2 separate regions of the Homo sapiens genome follow, and region 1 is linked to region 2. The links come from fine-mapping of genetic effects on gene expression. A gene starts in region 2. The other region holds a variant in brackets. All regions are shown on one strand. Distances are between the middles of the regions. Region 1 has its middle 75 kb from the start of MAGEF1. Region 2 holds the start of MAGEF1 (MAGE family member F1).

Region 1 (8,329 bases), 76 kb after region 2:
GATTGAGACCATCCTGGCTAATATGGTGAAGCCCTGTCTCTACTAAAAATACAAAAATTAGCTGGATGTGGTGGCCCACGCCTGTAGTCCCAGCTAGTCGAGAGGCTGAGGCAGGAGAATCGCTTGAACCTGGGTGGCGGAGGTTGCAGTGAGCCGAGATCATGCCACTGCACTCCAGCCTGGGTGACAGAGCAAGACTCAGTCTCAAAAAAAAAAAAAAAAAAAAAAAAAAAAGAAGTCTTATAGAAAACACAGACTCTTAGCAACCAACTTTAAGATGGGTGAAAACAAATGCCAAATGGAAGGACCAAGAATCTAGCCAGCAAAGTAATTGACGTGGAGAAGGGAAGATCAGAAAGAAGGTGAGGCTCCCTTGATTGGGCCTTGAAGGCTGAGCAAGATTTTGATAGCAGGTGAAGGGAATCAGGTATTGCAGACGGGGTTCCAGATGCCATCAGGCCTCAGCCCATGCCTTAATATTCTTGAGGCTTTTATTGGCTTAATTTTCCATGTGCAAAATGAAGGGTAGAAAAGCTCCACATGTCCCAGGGAGATGGGGTAGGGGTGGAGGAGCCCAGCCTGCTGGGCCCAAAGTAGATGGTGTGGCTTGGCCCAGAGCAGCCCACACTTTCACTAACCCAAGCTGCGGTCAAGGCCTCTTTGTCCTGTGTCCATGGCCCATTTCTCAGAATACACTGGGGCCACAATACACAGAAGCCACAATCCACCCATGGGAATTCTGCCCAGTGATCTCTGGAGGAGAGAAGCAAATATTGGGGCTGTGGATACTCAAGGGTTAAATGGAGTCTTTCAGACTCAAAGAACAATGAAGGTCAAGAAGAGAGTGATCAGACGAGCTTGCTGGAGGTGGCACCTGGCCAGGCCGGACAGTCAGCATTCTTCCACCTCTCTCTGCCACCCAGTCCATGACTCTTCCTCTCCCACTCAAAACCAGACCTCCAGGTTCCCACCATCCAGCCACACACCCCTCACCCAACCTGGCTGGGATCACCCATCCACCCAGAGGTCACTCAACGTCTTTTGAGGACTTGGGCGCCTGGCTCAGGGTCTTCTTCTGTCTCCCACCTCCTGCTGTCAGTCTGGGGGACCTGAATGTCCACATGGACTTCCCAACACCCTCACCCTTGGCTCTCCTATCTCCCCTTCCCCAACGACCTTCTCTCCATTTCTGCCACCCACATATCACCTGAAACGTCTCCTGTGAAATCTTAAACTCCAGCACCCCCATCTTGGGCCACAACTTTTTCCTTCCTTTCCATAAAACCTGGTCTCCACTCGCAGAGATTCTCCAATTCTCCCGTTCTGTCTCACTCGTTCGAGCACCGGTGCTGCAGTGCCGGCTTTGGACAAGGCCTTCCGCCAGCGCATCTGCTCCTTCCTGGCTCTACTTTCTCCTCTCTTGACCTGCCTGTGATTGGCCACATCATTCATTTTCCCGACACCCTTGATTCCCACACCCCCTCACCCTGCCTTTCCCAGCCCTGGAGGACTCCAGTCATCTGCTTTGTCCATTGCAATTCCCAGGCTACTAGAAGGCATAGGAAAACCACTCAACCGTGCAAACTAGTGCCACTCCAGATTTATGGTCCCTGACTTCAGCCTGGCCCTTCAGCTCCTGGGCTGCTGGTGATCAGCTCCTGTTCTGAAACTTACCACCCTTTCAGGCTTCCGGCCTGTCCCCTCCGTCATGTGTAATTGACAGAGAAAATAGAGATTCTCAGAACTCCCTCAACTACCCTCTCCTCCTCTTCTTTGCTAACCACAGACCCAACCCCACCTCTTCCCAAGACCTAGTTTTCACTCACAGACCACCCAGCCCTGGTGCAACTTGCTCCTCCCTTAGCTGCTGCAGCACCACCCTCTCTTCTGGACCTTCTCTTATTTTCCATCATCCCTTCCCTCTCTCTCCCCTGCTTCTCCTCTGTCCACTGCCTCTATGTTGTGGTTCCTAGAGCTCCAATTCTTGTCTTGCCCTGCTCCTGCACCCCTGATATTCTCATCTAAACCCATGGCTTCTTGCTCTAGTAATTCTGATATCTGTGGCTCATGTCCAAGCTCCACATCCTGGTGAACTTGGATGTTCACCTGTGTATCCCTAGGCACCACCAAAGCAGCATGTCCCCAACTAGTCCTCTTAGCTCTTGCCTCAAACCTCCACCTCCGCAGTCTCTGGATGTTGAGTTAGAGCATCACCTTCCACCCAGCCGGCCAGCCAGAGACCTGGGAGTTGCCTCAGCTCCGTCCTGACCCCTCCCAACACCCCACACAACATCCTATGTATTCTGTCTCAGACATGGTTCCCAAATGCACCCTCTCTCTTCCGCCACACTGCTATGTTTCTTTCCTGCTGCATCATCTTTTGCAATAACCTCTAGTTGCTCCTTGCTTCTGACTATCTCTCACTTTTGTATTTAAGCCAAATTTCCTTCGATGGCCCACAGAGGCCTTCACATTCCAACACATCCAACCTCTCTCTGCTCACCTTCCCTGCCTCTCTCCCTGCCAGCCCCTAATCCAGCTGCCTCCTGGACAAGCTAGAACTGCTCTTAACCCCATGATCATCCATCTGCTGAACCCTCTGGATGGGATAACCTCTCTCCCGCTTCCTTGACTGGGAAACTATTCTTCCTCCAAGATCCACCTTCCCAGACACCCCAGCCCCTCAGGCAGAATTAACTGTGCTCTTCATTCTGTTTCTCTGTACTCAGTTTATCCAATCTACAGCTGTTGGATATTCACTGGTTCCAGTCTGGGGCCTTCATGAATAATGCCTGCCACGAACATTCTTGTACACGATTCACCTCTGGAGTACACATGTCTGAATTGACTGCTTAGATGCTGACCGGCTGCTTCTGAAGAGATATTTGAGAACTCCTGGTCCAGATCTTCACCAGCCCTTCGTTTTATCAGACTTTTACATTTTTGCTAATCTGGAGGGTATGTAGTAGAATCTTCTTGGGATTTTAATTTGCATTTCTTTGATTCCTGATAAGGTCACACACCTCATATATTTATAGCCATTTGGATTTTTCCATATTTATGCATTTGATCCAGTTTTTCCATTGAGTTGCCAATCTTCATACTCATTTGTGGGAGTTCTTTACACATTCTGGAGCTGAGCCCTTTGTCAGTTGCATGTGTTGCAAAACCTTTTCCTGCTCTGTGGCTTCCCTTTTACTCTCTTCATGTTGTCTTCTGAAGAACACAGCTTCTTCATTTTAATGCACCCACATTTGTCAATCTTTTTCTTTATGGTTAGTGTTATTTTTGTGTGTTGTTTAAGAAATCTTTCCCTACCCTGAGGTCACGGAGATTTTTTTTACATTGTCTTATAAAGGCTTTCTTGTTTTGCTTTTCAGATTTAGGTCCTTGCTCCACCTGCAACCCCACGGCACTTGGTACTTATTTCTGTAGCACTGCTAACTCCATCTGTTTATATGTCTGCCTCCTCCACTAAACAAAGACCTCCTTTAGGGCAAACTACAAATCTGTGTTTTAAATCTTTGTATTCAGAGGTCCTAACACAGTGCCCGGCACACAGTAGGCACTTTATCAATGCCCTTGAGTGCCTGGATTGCAGAACCGAGGTACAGCTGCTTCCAAACAGGAAGGCCCTCTCTTCTCAGGAGTCCCACTTTTGCTGACTCTTGCCCTCCCATCAAAAAGCACATGTGTATACTGAGTTCATGTGTGCTGAATGTATGGCACAAGTGTGTACTGAGTGCCTACTGTGTGTGGGTGCTGGGCACAGTTTTAGTGATGCAGAGCCAAAGATGGCGAAGTCTCAGCCTGTACAGTACTCATCACCTGGCACCTGCTTTCCTGACGCAGTTCAGAAACCCCCACACTGATCTGGAAAGCAGAGAGTCCTGGGT[G/A]CAAATCCCAGCTCTGCCTCCTGTCATCTGCACCACTCTGGGCAAGTCAATTCAGTATACTGGGTTTCAGCTTTCTACTTTGTCAAAAGGGAAAACAACAGATAACTTTGTGGGTTGTGGTGAGGACAGAGTGGAAGAATAAACATGAAATGCCAAGCGGGTGCTGGAGGCATGGTAAATGTCTAAAGATTGTTGAGTTGAGTAAATGATGGAATGGATGAGTCAGTGAATGAACTGGTTGGGAGGGGGGATGGGCAAGGAGAGCTAGAATTGGGAGGGGCAGTAGGCAGGAGGCAGGGGCTGCTGGGTTCTCCTGCAGGCCTTCCTTGTCATAGTAACTGCTGTCAGCAAATGTTTCCCAGACAGGAATCCCCTTCAGGGCTCCCTTCCCCAACCCACTGCATTTGTTGACTCAAAACCTCCCCACTGCCAATTTAGCCTGCAGTAAGGAAGCGGGGTGGGGAGGGGGAGAGAGGTGTAGGAGGGAGTAAAGCTGTGCAGAAAGGGGTCTTTGTCTGAGCACTGTGTGGCATTTCAGATTTCGGTGGAGGGGTTTTTGTTGCTTTTTTTTTTTTAACCTCCTAAAGAGTTGAGTGGGCTGCACTTGCAATAAGAGGTATCAGAATGAGACAGCAGGGAGGACTTCCAGTGGGCTCTCTGTATTGGACGGTGGAACAATGGAATGGACTGCCAAGGGCCTGGGGAGTCTCTCTGAGGCTTAGACACAGATGCAGGTGCGCTGTTCCCATGGAGGAACTCTGAGGGTCTCAGCCCTGTGCTCCCTCCACAGCTCCTCTCCTTGCTGAGGTGAGAGGTTCCATGTCCAGGAAGCTGTTTTTTTTTGTGTTTTTTTGTTTGTTTGTTTTTTGTTTTAAGGAACAGGGTCTCACTATGTTATCCAAGCTAGTCGTGAATTCCCGGGCTCAAGCGATCAGCCTCCTGAGCAGCTGGGACTACAGGCATGTGCCACGACACCCAGCTCCCAAGAAGCTGTTCTGAACCCAGTAGCCACTGGGCCATCCTGCTGCAAAGCTTAACTGGGGCCTCTTGCCACGTGCTGTTCTCTGGTTCCAGCTCCCTCTCCTGGGGCTCCTGTTGGGGCAGCCCTGGATCCTGGAGGGTTCACAGCTGGACCCAGGCTTTCCCCTGACCCCGCAGAGCCCTTCCACGCAGCCCTACTTCAGGCCTGCCCCATCAGCCTGCCCACCACCCCTGACTCACGTCAAGGAGAGGAGCCGACAGGCCCAGCCTCCCGCCACCCAACCCCAGGCCCTGAGCGTCAGGCCTGTGCCTTCTCCTCCCCGACACCCTCCCTCCACCTTTAGGTGGCTTCGTGCCTCCTCCACGCATGTGCGTGCCTGTGTTTATGGGCTTCTCTCGGGCTGCCCTGTGCCCTCATGTCTGTCTGTGTCTGTGTTTCTGTCCCTGCCTCTCTCTCCCCACGCTGCCTCACTCCTTTCTGTCCTCTCTGTCTGCCTTCCTTTTTGTCTTCTGGTCTGTGTGTCTCTCTCGGACCCTGTCTTTCTTTCCATCAGTCTGTTTCTTTGTGCGTGTCTCTAAGTCACTCTGTCTCTCAGTCTGTCTCTGAATCTGTCTGTCTCTCTTTCAGCGTATGTGTCTCTGTGCCCCCCTCTCCTCTTCTCTGTCTCTGTCCCTGTTGCCGTGTCTCTCTCTGTCCCTCTCACTCAGCGTCCCTGCCATGTCTCTCATGCTCTGGCTCTCCCTCTGAGCCTCTTTCTTCTGGGCACTCAGCAGGCCAGTGTCAGAGTCAGATCCTGGCCAGCCGCCAGACCACTTGCCCCGGTGGCCCGCACCTCTGGCATCACCTCTGGGAGCAGGTTTCCTCACAGCTGCCAGGCGAGAGCAGGCCTTGTGGCCCCCAGTCCTGCCCTGAGAGTGGAGTCCCAGGGGCCTACAACCTGCCTTCACTCAGCGCCTGCTAAGGGCTCCTTTCTTCCCGTCCCCTCCTCCTCCCTCTTCCCGACTTAAATTCAATGCCCTGCAGCCCCAGTCCCCAAAGTCGCTGAGTCCTGGCTGTGAGCCCAGTACCACTCAGAGCTCCACAGGGGCATGGCTGCAGGAACTCCACCCTGACACCCTCAGGAGCTCCCAGGCCAGCTGGGGTGGCCCCACACCCGCACGTAGAAAACAATGTGGACAGCACAGGGCAAAAGAGTCAGGGCCCAGTGTGGCCACAGACTGAAAATCCCAAAGGAAGGGAGACACGAGTCAACATCAGGGAGGTTAGATTCAAGCTGGACAGGACTGTGTCAAATGGAGATGGCCAGAGAGGACATACGCATGACAGGACCCTGCCTGGCACAGGCGTCGAGGATGGACTCATTAAGGGACCCTGAGCTGAAGGGTAGTGGTTTCAGGGCTGGAATTAAAGTTTGTACACACCCTTGAGAGTAAAAAGATTAAAAACGATTCTCATGGAGGTATGTGTGGGGAGGCAGAAGTTTTCAGAAGTGAAGATGATATCTAAATTGGATTCCAAATCCACTCAAGGTGAAGGAGAGGGAAAAGCTATTTCAGGCTAAAGAGCCAGCAGAGAGGAAGGGAAGGGCTCAGAGAGAGTGGTGGGAGGGACATGGGACAGAACGGGGGCCCTGGTGCGGCACCCCAGGGCTCTAGACTCTATCTGCAGCTGCCAGGGGAGCGTTTTGAGAAGGAGAGTGACACTATACGCTTTTATTTATTTTGGCTTTTTAATAAGTTACTGGCAGCTGTCTGGAGAAGGGATGGGCAGGAAGGGAGACTGAGGGTGGGAAGAGCAGCTAGCAGCTCCTGCAATAGTCCTGGCAAGAGCCGAAGAGGGGCCTGCTGGGGCTGGGTTCATGGGAGTGGGGACAAGAGGACACCTTCAGAGCACCTTCTGAGGCAGACCAGAAAGGGTGGGGCAAGGAAGAAGTGGGGGTTGTCTGAAGCTTCCGACTTCGGGACACCAGGGAGAAGGAGAGGTTTGGAGAAAAAGACCAAGCACCTTGGGGTTGAGATGTCCACGGGACTTCCTGGGGTGGAACTCCCTCCTTTCCACTCAGGGCAGCTGGACATAAGATATGGAGGCCTACAAGTGGCCCGGGTGGCAGAGAGAGGTCTAGGAGTTGGTGGTTCCTGAGGCCAAACAGAGGCTGAGCTTGGGGCCGGGCGAGGTGGCTCACACCTGTAATCCCAGCACTTTGGGAGGCCGAGGCGGGCGGATCACCTGAGGTCAGGAGTTTGAGACCAGTCTGGCCAACATGGTGAAAACCCGTCTCTACTAAAAATACAAAAATTAGCCAGGGGTGGTGGCGGGAGCCTGTAATCCCAGCTACTCAGGAGGCTGAGACCAGAGAATTGCTTGAACCCAGGAGGCGGAGCTTGCAGTGAGCCGAGATGGCGCCGCTGCACTCCAGCCTGGGCGACAGAGCAAGACTCTGTCTCAAAAAAAAAAAGAAGCTGAGCTTGGGTCTGATCTATTATGGCTGGTTCCAGCTCCAAAGCAAGAAAGGGGTACACAGTCACTCCAGAAAGCCCTGAGTCCACTTCCCCAGTGTCTTCTCACCCACAGCCCCACCTTCCCACACCCTACACACACACACACACACACACATATGCACACACGTGTGCACACAGAGAACCGGATCAGCAATGGCACCCAGTGTTTCAGGCCAACCAACAAGCATTTTCAAATGCAAATTCCCTCCTTCCACCCCCACTCGTTCCTCACACAACTGCTCTCTGAGCAGCTGGGGGCAGAGTCGGGGAAGGGGGGGATGAGGGGCAGCAAAAATAAATCCCATTTTCTGCTCCTTTTCAATGCTGGGCAGCAATCCCCTGCTGCCTCCCCTCCCTCTCCACAGATGGGGGATTAGACTGGCCTCAGGTTCGGCTCTGCCCGAGGGGAGGGTGACAGGCAGGGCAGGGGCTGAGCTGGGGAGGGGTGCAAGTGTTCAGTGACAGGGCTAAGAATAACAGCTTCCATCAGGCCTGACGCCCTCTCCCACTTGCCATGGCTCAAGTTGTTCCTGCGTGAGGGAGACAGACAGACAGATACAGGGCTGGGTGTATCTGTGCATGAGACAAAGACCAAAGCTGGGGGTGCAGTTGTAGGGGACAAGCTGGCAGGCAAATCGCATGGATGTGACTGGGAGAGGCTGGAGACAGAGTGACCGACCCATGTGACAGTGAGATGGCAAAGGAGGGAGAGCATGTTCCATGTGTTTGAGTGTGTGTGTGTCAGAGGCTGTGTGAAGGCCCTTGTGAGAGAGGCTGTTGATATGTGGAAGAAAAGGCCGCAGGCAGGAGCAGGTGGGCAAGGCTGGGTCTGAGCATGTGGGCATCCTCAGGGCATTTATGAGTGACCGAGATGGGGGCAGCAGGGGCGGCCTGGCAGCAGATCTTGCTCTGCTGGGGCTGGGAGGCCTCTGTGCAGGGCAGTCAGGTGGCGG
Region 2 (8,281 bases):
CCCTGCCATTCCCCCTCCCCCGCTGGCCAGGGTCTGCTCCTCCTCTGGGTTTGGTGTTATATTACAGACACTGGTGAGTCACTGGCAGCCAAACACAGAAGTACTGTTGCTTACACAATTACTCTTCAAAAAGTAACAAACAATTTTCATTACCCAAGTCAGATCGAATCATTCGCCTGGCCATCCTGCCTCAATCCCAGCCCCATAGACGGGACCCAAAGCCTCACACTCTGCCCATTCTGCTCTGACAAAACCAGCTTCAATTTGTCCCGGCCTAGGGATAGGGACAGAGCTCTTCCTCTGATCCCTGTTTGGAGCCAGATCAGCTGCACGGCTGTCAAGACTGTCAGGAGAAATAGGGAAGACACAAGCACCCACGCAGCCTGGAGACCATCAGATCTGGGGTGACATGTTACTGAGCACCTGTGTGAAGAAGGCATTCAAGAGTTTGGAGGACTCTATTGCCAAGTTTAGAAGGAATCCAACAAGATAACCCTGGCTCTGCACCAAAGTATTCACTGGCCTCAAATGGAGTGTCAGTACTTGACATTTCTTTATTTAATCTTTTTTGGCCAGACAGTTTTTTCAATGAGGAATGTGTAAGCTATTCCGAAATGTCTGTCTAAGAGGCCAGTCACCCTCATTACTGGGATTTTTCCACCATATCTCTTTTAGAAAAGGGTCTGTAACATTTTATATTTATTTCTTAATGGTGGAGCACTTTAAACGCATATTTACATGTATAATCTTGATTGAACTTCAAAATAACTCTGTAAGGATGGGCAAAGCAAGGGTTGTTGGGGCCTAAAGATGAGGAAAAGGTGGCTCAGAGAGGTTCAGCACCCTGTGCAAGGTCACAGAATGGGCGAGTACTGACCTGGTTCAGCACTTTGTCCCAGGAAACCTCCTCCGCGTCTCCACAGAGTGCTGGGCATTTCAGGACAGCTCAGCTGCAATTCTGCTTTTCCAGTGGAACATCCTTCTCTCTTCCACGTATGAAACTTTACGAAGCACTGTGGGCTTTTGAAGACTCTAGTCTAGGCTAAGAAGGATCCTCTCTCAAGAAGATTCCAACCCAATAGTCATTAAAGCATATGTTTCGTCATCTCCCAAACCAAAGGCATATATCTTTTGTCCCTTTTAAAAGTTTAGGTAAGGAATGTGTTAAAAGTCTGCCTGTTGCCGGAAATGGTGGCTCATGCCGGTAATCCCAGCACTTTGGGAGGCCGAGGCAGGCGGATCACGAGGTCAGGAGATCGTGACCATCCTGGCTAACACGGTGAAACCCCATCTCTACTAAAAAAAAAAATACAAAAAATTAGCTGCATGGTGGCAGACGCCTGTAGTCCCAGCTACTCGGGAGGCTGAGGCAGGAGAATGGCGTGAACGTGGGAGACGGAGCTTGCAGTGAGCCGAGATGCGCCACTGCACTCCAGCCTGGGCGACAGAGTGAGACTTCGTCTCAAAAAAAAAAAAAAAAAAAAAAAAAAATTCTGTGTGTCCGGTTACATGGTGGACATAACAAAAAAAAAAATGGGAAAAATTATTGTTTGCATTCCTTCCACTGTAACATGGTAACATCTAGCGATCGGCAAGTGGTAATGCAGAGTCCATTCACCTTTCTTACTCCTCGCCTCCTCCCATACCTAAAGGGCTGTTCATTTTTTAAAATCCTTTTTTATTTTTATAAATTTTGAGGTATGATTCATACACTATGAAATGCATACCTGGCTGGGCATGGTGGCTTACACCTGTAATCCCAGCATTTTGGGAGGCTGAGGCAGGCAGATCACTTGAGGTCAGGAGTTTGAGACCAGCTTGGCCAACATGGTGAAACCCCGTCTCTGTTAAAAATACAAAAATCAGCCAGGTGTGGTGGCAGGTGCCTGTAATCCCAGCTACTTGGAAGGCTGAGGCAAGAGAAGCACTTGAACCTGGAGGCAAGGGTTGCAGTGGCAGGGGTTGCAGTGAGCTGAGATTGTGCCATTGCACCACTCCAGCCTGGGTAACAGAGTGAGACCCTGTCGCAAAGAAAAGAAAAGAAAAGAAAAGAAATGCATAGCTATTAAGCGTACAGTTTCACAAGTTTTGACAAATGTATACCTACATCCAAATCAAGACACAGAACGTTGCCATCACCACTGAAAGTTCCTGGATACCCCTTTCCAGTCAACACCACCCCAGGCCTCCACTGTCCTAATTTCTATCACCATAGATTAGCTTATCCTGCCTCGAACATCAGATAAATGGAATCATATTATACGTATAATCTTTTGTATCTTTCATCTGTCACTCAACATATCTGCCAGACTCATTCACATTGTGTCAGTAGTTTGTTCCTTCTTATGAGTAGTATCGTCATTTATTCAGTTCTTAAAATCCAGCCCTATTACCACAGATTTGTCCCTCAAAATTCTTTTCATTTAATATATCTTCTGCATGCTCCTTTCCGTGCATGTATCTCCTGCATATCTCCCTGGCAATCCTTGTAGTGAGGAAAATATGTAAGTGGACTATTTTATCTCTAGCACTGTCCTTTTAGGTATGGGTGGCTCTCTCTACCTTCAGGAAAAACAGATAACCAGGCAGTCTTGCTTCAGAGTTTACAGATCTGGGTTTTCATTTCTTGTCTAGCACTTAACAGATGGGTGGTTCAGGGCAGGTGATTTAACCTCTCTGTGACTGTTTTCCCATTTGTAAATGTGGATAATAATACCTTCTTAATAGGGATTTGTGAGGACAAAATTATATTGTACATAGAATGTTTGGCACAATGAAAACTAATAATAGCCTCAAGCTAGGCTATAATAAACATCCTCTCCTGCTTCATTCACATACTTCCAGGTTTGTAAGTCATATGATACAAGTGGGTATAAATTTTCAAAAGTTTTTAAAAGGAAGATTTCATATTTAGATTTAGAAAAGTCTATCAGATATTTACTTAAAATAAGTAACTGTTATTTCCTAGGGAAAAAAGTAAAGCCTTCTGTCATTTATTCATTGGCAATTATATATCGAGTATTGACTAAGAGAAGCTCTTCAAAAGAGTTAAAAACATAGCCCTAGCTTTTAGGATGTTTGGTTTGGGGAGGGTAATAAGATAAGCACAACAAATTATAATACAAAATATAGTAAATGATAATAATAATAATTAACATCTATGAATGTAGTGGTTAAGAGCACAGTCTCTGGAGTCATACTATATGGGTTCACATCCCAGCTGTGTGATGTTGGGCAAGTTACTTAACCTCCTTGTGTGTAACCTCACCTGGAAAATGGGGCTAATACCACTTACCTAGCAGGGCTACAGTATCAGAAAAAAGTGGCCCAGGGTGTTTGAGCATCCTGTACAAGGTCACAGAATGGGTGAGTACTGACCCGGTTCAGTGCTATGTCCCAGGACACCTCCTCCGCATCTCCACAGAGTGCTAGGCATTCCAGGACAGTTCATCTTGCAATTCTAATATTGTATATTGCATATAAAAATATGCATTAATTAACAGCTAACATGTATTGAATATCAATATGTGCCAAGCACTGTGTTAAATGCTTATGTGCATTACTTCACATAATCTCCACAATGCTGTTACTACTATTATACTCATTTTACTGATAAGGTAACAGAAGGGCAGAAGTTTAGGTAACTTGCCCAAGATTACATAGCTAGTAAGTAGCAAACTGTGTCACAGAAAAGATACAATCATCTATAAAATGGGGATGATGGTATTAGTACCTACATTAGTGAGAATCTGATGAATTAATATTTGAAAAGTGATTAGAACGGAGCCTGGCACCTAATAAAGCCTATATATGTGGATGTTAACAATTGCTAAGGTGATTCAGAGATGACAGTAAATAACTTCTATGCGTGGTGACTAAGGAAGGCTTGGGAAGGTGATGTTTAAACTGGGCCCTGAATAGTGGACAGGATTTGGAGAAATGGAGGTGATAGAGAGGGCATTTCTGACAGGGAAGGAAGGGAGGGAGGGAGGGAAGAAGGAAGGAAGGAAGGAAGGAAAGAAGGAAGGAAGGAAGGAAGGAAAGAAGGAAGGAAGGAAGGCAGGAAGGGAAGGAGGGAAGGGAGGGAGGAAGGAAGGAAGGAGGGAAGGAAAGAAGGAAGGAAGGAGCAAGAAGCAGAAGAAAGCTCAGAGTGTGTAAAAAGAGAAAAAGAAAAGAAATACATGGGAGTAGTCAAATTTGACTTGCGCAAAAAAAAAAAAAAAAAAGAACAAACTTCCCCTTTCTTCCAACCAGTCCCTATTCCTGCTGTACTTCTCAGTATTTTCCTCTTATCCCCATGGAATCTGCTGTCCTTACTCCCTCATCATAATGATCCATTGAATATTTATTGAGTTCCTCTCCGTGTCAGGCACTGCTCTAGGCACCGAGGATACAACCCAGTAAATAGGCCGGGTCCCAGTTCCTAGTTTGCACTATAATAATCCTCCAAACTGGATTCTAGCTTTTAGCCGGCCGAACTCCAATCTATCTTCCACAATACCGCCAGAACCGAAGACACAGATCTGGTCTGGACACTCACTTGCTTAAATCCCGCTGCAGTATTTTCTCTTTACGTCCAGAATAAATTTCAGTCTCCCTAGCATCCTTTACTAATTGGTTCGCACAGTCTTACCTCGCAGCCTTCACCGTGCACTCTGCACAAGAGCCCCGGTAAAGCACTGAAAATCCCAGATACACACACTCACAAATAGGCACTTGCAGAAAGAACGTGGGGGGCACTCCATCCCTATTTCATCTCTTGTACACCGAAACATTCCCCAGTCTGCATGCCTTGGATGGGAGAGTCCTGGTTACATTCCCCCGCCCCCGACTTTTCAAGCCTAAAATCCGTCACAGGGCGCACCCCCGTCCCCACCCTCCAGGGCATTTCCACTTATAGCAGCCTGGGCACACCCCCAACCCAGAAGGGACCGGAAAAGGAGGGGCTGCGCGCGGCACTAGGGTCGCCGTCCTGGCTGAGGTGGCCGGAAGTGGCCCCTCGCGCGGGCGCGGACTGAGGCTGCGCGCCGCAGGTTCCGGCTGCTGGCGGCGTTGCGGCCGCAGGTTTGACTCCCGTGCGGTGCGGCCCAGCAGCCACAAAGCTCCCGCTGCCATTGCTCCTTGTACTCCCGCCGTCACTGCCGCTGTCCAACCCCTCCCCCGGGGCTTGCGCGGCGGCTCCCACACCCCTCGGCCCGTGTACGCGCTCTGCACCTGCCTGCCCGAAAACATGTTGCAGACACCAGAGAGCAGGGGGCTCCCGGTCCCGCAGGCCGAGGGGGAGAAGGATGGCGGCCATGATGGTGAGACCCGGGCCCCGACCGCCTCGCAGGAGCGCCCCAAGGAGGAGCTTGGCGCCGGGAGGGAGGAGGGGGCTGCGGAGCCCGCCCTCACCCGGAAAGGCGCGAGGGCCTTGGCGGCCAAAGCCTTGGCAAGGCGCAGGGCCTACCGCCGGCTGAATCGGACGGTGGCGGAGTTGGTGCAGTTCCTCCTGGTGAAAGACAAGAAGAAGAGTCCCATCACACGCTCGGAGATGGTGAAATACGTTATTGGAGACTTGAAGATTCTGTTCCCGGACATCATCGCAAGGGCCGCAGAGCATCTGCGGTATGTCTTTGGTTTTGAGCTGAAACAGTTTGACCGCAAGCACCACACTTACATCCTGATCAACAAACTAAAACCTCTGGAGGAGGAGGAGGAGGAGGATCTGGGAGGAGATGGCCCCAGATTGGGTCTGTTAATGATGATCCTGGGCCTTATCTATATGAGAGGTAATAGCGCCAGGGAGGCCCAGGTCTGGGAGATGCTGCGTCGGTTGGGGGTGCAACCCTCAAAGTATCATTTCCTCTTTGGGTATCCGAAGAGGCTTATTATGGAAGATTTTGTGCAGCAGCGATATCTCAGTTACAGGCGGGTGCCTCACACCAATCCACCAGAATATGAATTCTCTTGGGGTCCCCGAAGCAACCTGGAAATCAGCAAGATGGAAGTCCTGGGGTTCGTGGCCAAACTGCATAAGAAGGAACCGCAGCACTGGCCAGTGCAGTACCGTGAGGCCCTAGCAGACGAGGCCGACAGGGCCAGAGCCAAGGCCAGAGCTGAAGCCAGTATGAGGGCCAGGGCCAGTGCTAGGGCCGGCATCCACCTCTGGTGAGGGTTGGTGAAAAGTTGGCCAGTGGGTCCCCGTGAGGACGAACTACTGTCCTGAGTCATAAGTAATATGGGTGGGGCGAGGGTCTTATTTCTGTAGAAATCGTGTGACTTTAAGGATTTAGATTTTGTATCTTATGTTTTGTAACATTTAATAATTACTGTTAAAATGCTGTTTGTAAATGAGATTGGTCTACTTTTTCCTGTAGGATTTTATTGTAGAGTTTTGCTGGTTTTGTAAAATGGATGGAAGAACTTTGTATTTATACTGTGATTTTGAACAGATTATGCAACATTGGAAGGAAGGCTGTACTTTGATGGTTTGAAGGAACTCAGCAGTATGATGATCTGGTTCCAGGGGAAAAAAATAGCTGGTTGGTGTCTAGCCCCCCAACACTTTTGTCTGTTGTGTATAAAAGAAGAAAGACTGGCATGTACCTTCATTTGCTTAGCTATTTGAGTATCTAGAGAAAAATTAAAATGCAATGAGTTAGCAGTATACCCTGGCACACTTAATAAATTAAACATTTGTGGAGCATCTTGTTTTCTGTGATGCACTGTGTGGGCACTTGGGGATAGAATACTAAACAAGATAAAGGTCCTACTTTTTTTCAGAATTGAAGAGTAAGTAAATAAACAAGAAATTAGCAGTGCAATGAGTTGAAGTCTACAAAGGGATACTTAACCCAGCTGGGATGATTGAGTGAGGTTTGCTGTAATCCCAGCACTTTGGGAGGCCGAGGCGGACTGATCACCGGAGTCAGGAGTTCAAGACCAGCCTGGCCAACATGGTGAAACCCTGTTTCTACTAAAATTACAAAAATTAACCAGGCGTGGTGGCACACACCTGTAATCCCAGCTACTTGGGAGGCCAAGGCACAAGAATCTCTTGAATCTAGGAGACGGAGGTTGCAGTGAGCCGAGATCATACCACTGCACTCCAGCTTGGGAGACAGAGCAAGACCCCGTCTCAGAAAAAAATAAGAAATAAAAATAATGATTTCAGATCACAGCTACTCCTCAGTAATGTGAGCAGACTTGATACATGGCAGATCTGGGAAATACTCTACCTTTGCCAGTGCTGTCTTTCCAGACCAGATTGTTAACAGTGCACAAAGATGTTGACTGTCAACTTTTTGGCCCTTTCTGTCTCCTTTTCAACCTCTACAGGGTTCCCTCCTCTACCAAAGCCCTCAGAGATCAAATAATGTAACACCTCTGGAATATTATGTAGTGTGGATGAAGGGTACCTAAATCTACTACTACCAAGAAGTTCCACTTCAAGATTTCTCCTCTGGCACCAGGAAGCCCAGTTCCCCCTTCCATGTTTCTGCCTGCTGCTTTCCACCTGCCACCTCCCATTTACAGGAGACTTGTGAGGTATCCCTCCCCTTCATGTTATCCGTGGAGAGTCATCTGTAAGGAGCTCTGGCTTCTTCAATGCCCACCACCTTCTGCGTGAGGGTAAATCCTGTAGAAAGGGTACTTAGAATAATAGGGAATTTAGAGAAGTGATTCCCAAACCAGAGAGTGGGTGAGGGTCGGGGGCAGGGTGGGCGGATGGTGAAACTTCCCCTGCAACTGCCATAAACAGAAGAGCTGCTTTCTTTTCTCTTATCAATTTTTTCTTCCAGTTGTGTCCAAGTAACATCTCTGAGGATGTTAAGGTTGGCATGGAATACAAACTACTTTGGGACGTAGGGATCCAACAAATCAGATTGGGACAAAAGCTACCAGCTTAGGGACAAAAAAGTTGCTAACGGTTAAAAATACAACTTCTGGGTAGTTTATGGTTCATTAAACATAAATATTGAGTGTCCACTCTGTGCTAACAACTTTGATGGGTACCAGAACTATTAAAATGAGAAGACTTGGCTGGGCGCGGTGGCTCACACCTGTAATCCCAGCACTTTGGAAGGCTGAGGTGTGCAGATCACAAGGTCAGGAGTTCGAGACCAGCCTGGCCAGCATAGTGAAACCCTGTCTCTATTAAAAATACAAAAATTAGCTGGGCACGGTGGCGCACGCTTGTAATCCCAGCTACTCAGGAGGCTGAGGCAGGAGAATCGCTTGAACCCAGGAGGTGGAGGTTGCAGTGAGCCGAGATCGTGCCACTGCACTCCAGCCTGGG

What was found. PIP is the estimated chance that this variant, and not a neighbour inherited with it, causes the effect.
Region 1: its variant is fine-mapped to the expression of MAGEF1 in whole blood (INTERVAL, PIP 0.96).

Annotation. Positions count from the first base shown.
Region 1 is chr3:184,632,788-184,641,116 of GRCh38, reverse strand. No RefSeq gene overlaps it. Among named protein-coding and RNA genes, the nearest start is that of MAGEF1, 75 kb to the left of the region's middle. The variant G/A (reference allele first, on the strand shown) is at 3,897.
Region 2 is chr3:184,708,771-184,717,051 of GRCh38, reverse strand. MAGEF1 (MAGE family member F1) reads left to right here and starts at 4,988. Exons shown (of 1, transcript NM_022149.5): 1 at 4,988-6,688. The coding sequence starts at 5,231. The coding sequence ends at 6,154. It overlaps LOC107986163 (a long non-coding RNA gene), which reads right to left and starts at 4,809. Exons shown (of 5, transcript NR_160768.1): 1 at 4,634-4,809; 2 at 878-2,021. RefSeq lists an enhancer at 5,729-5,788.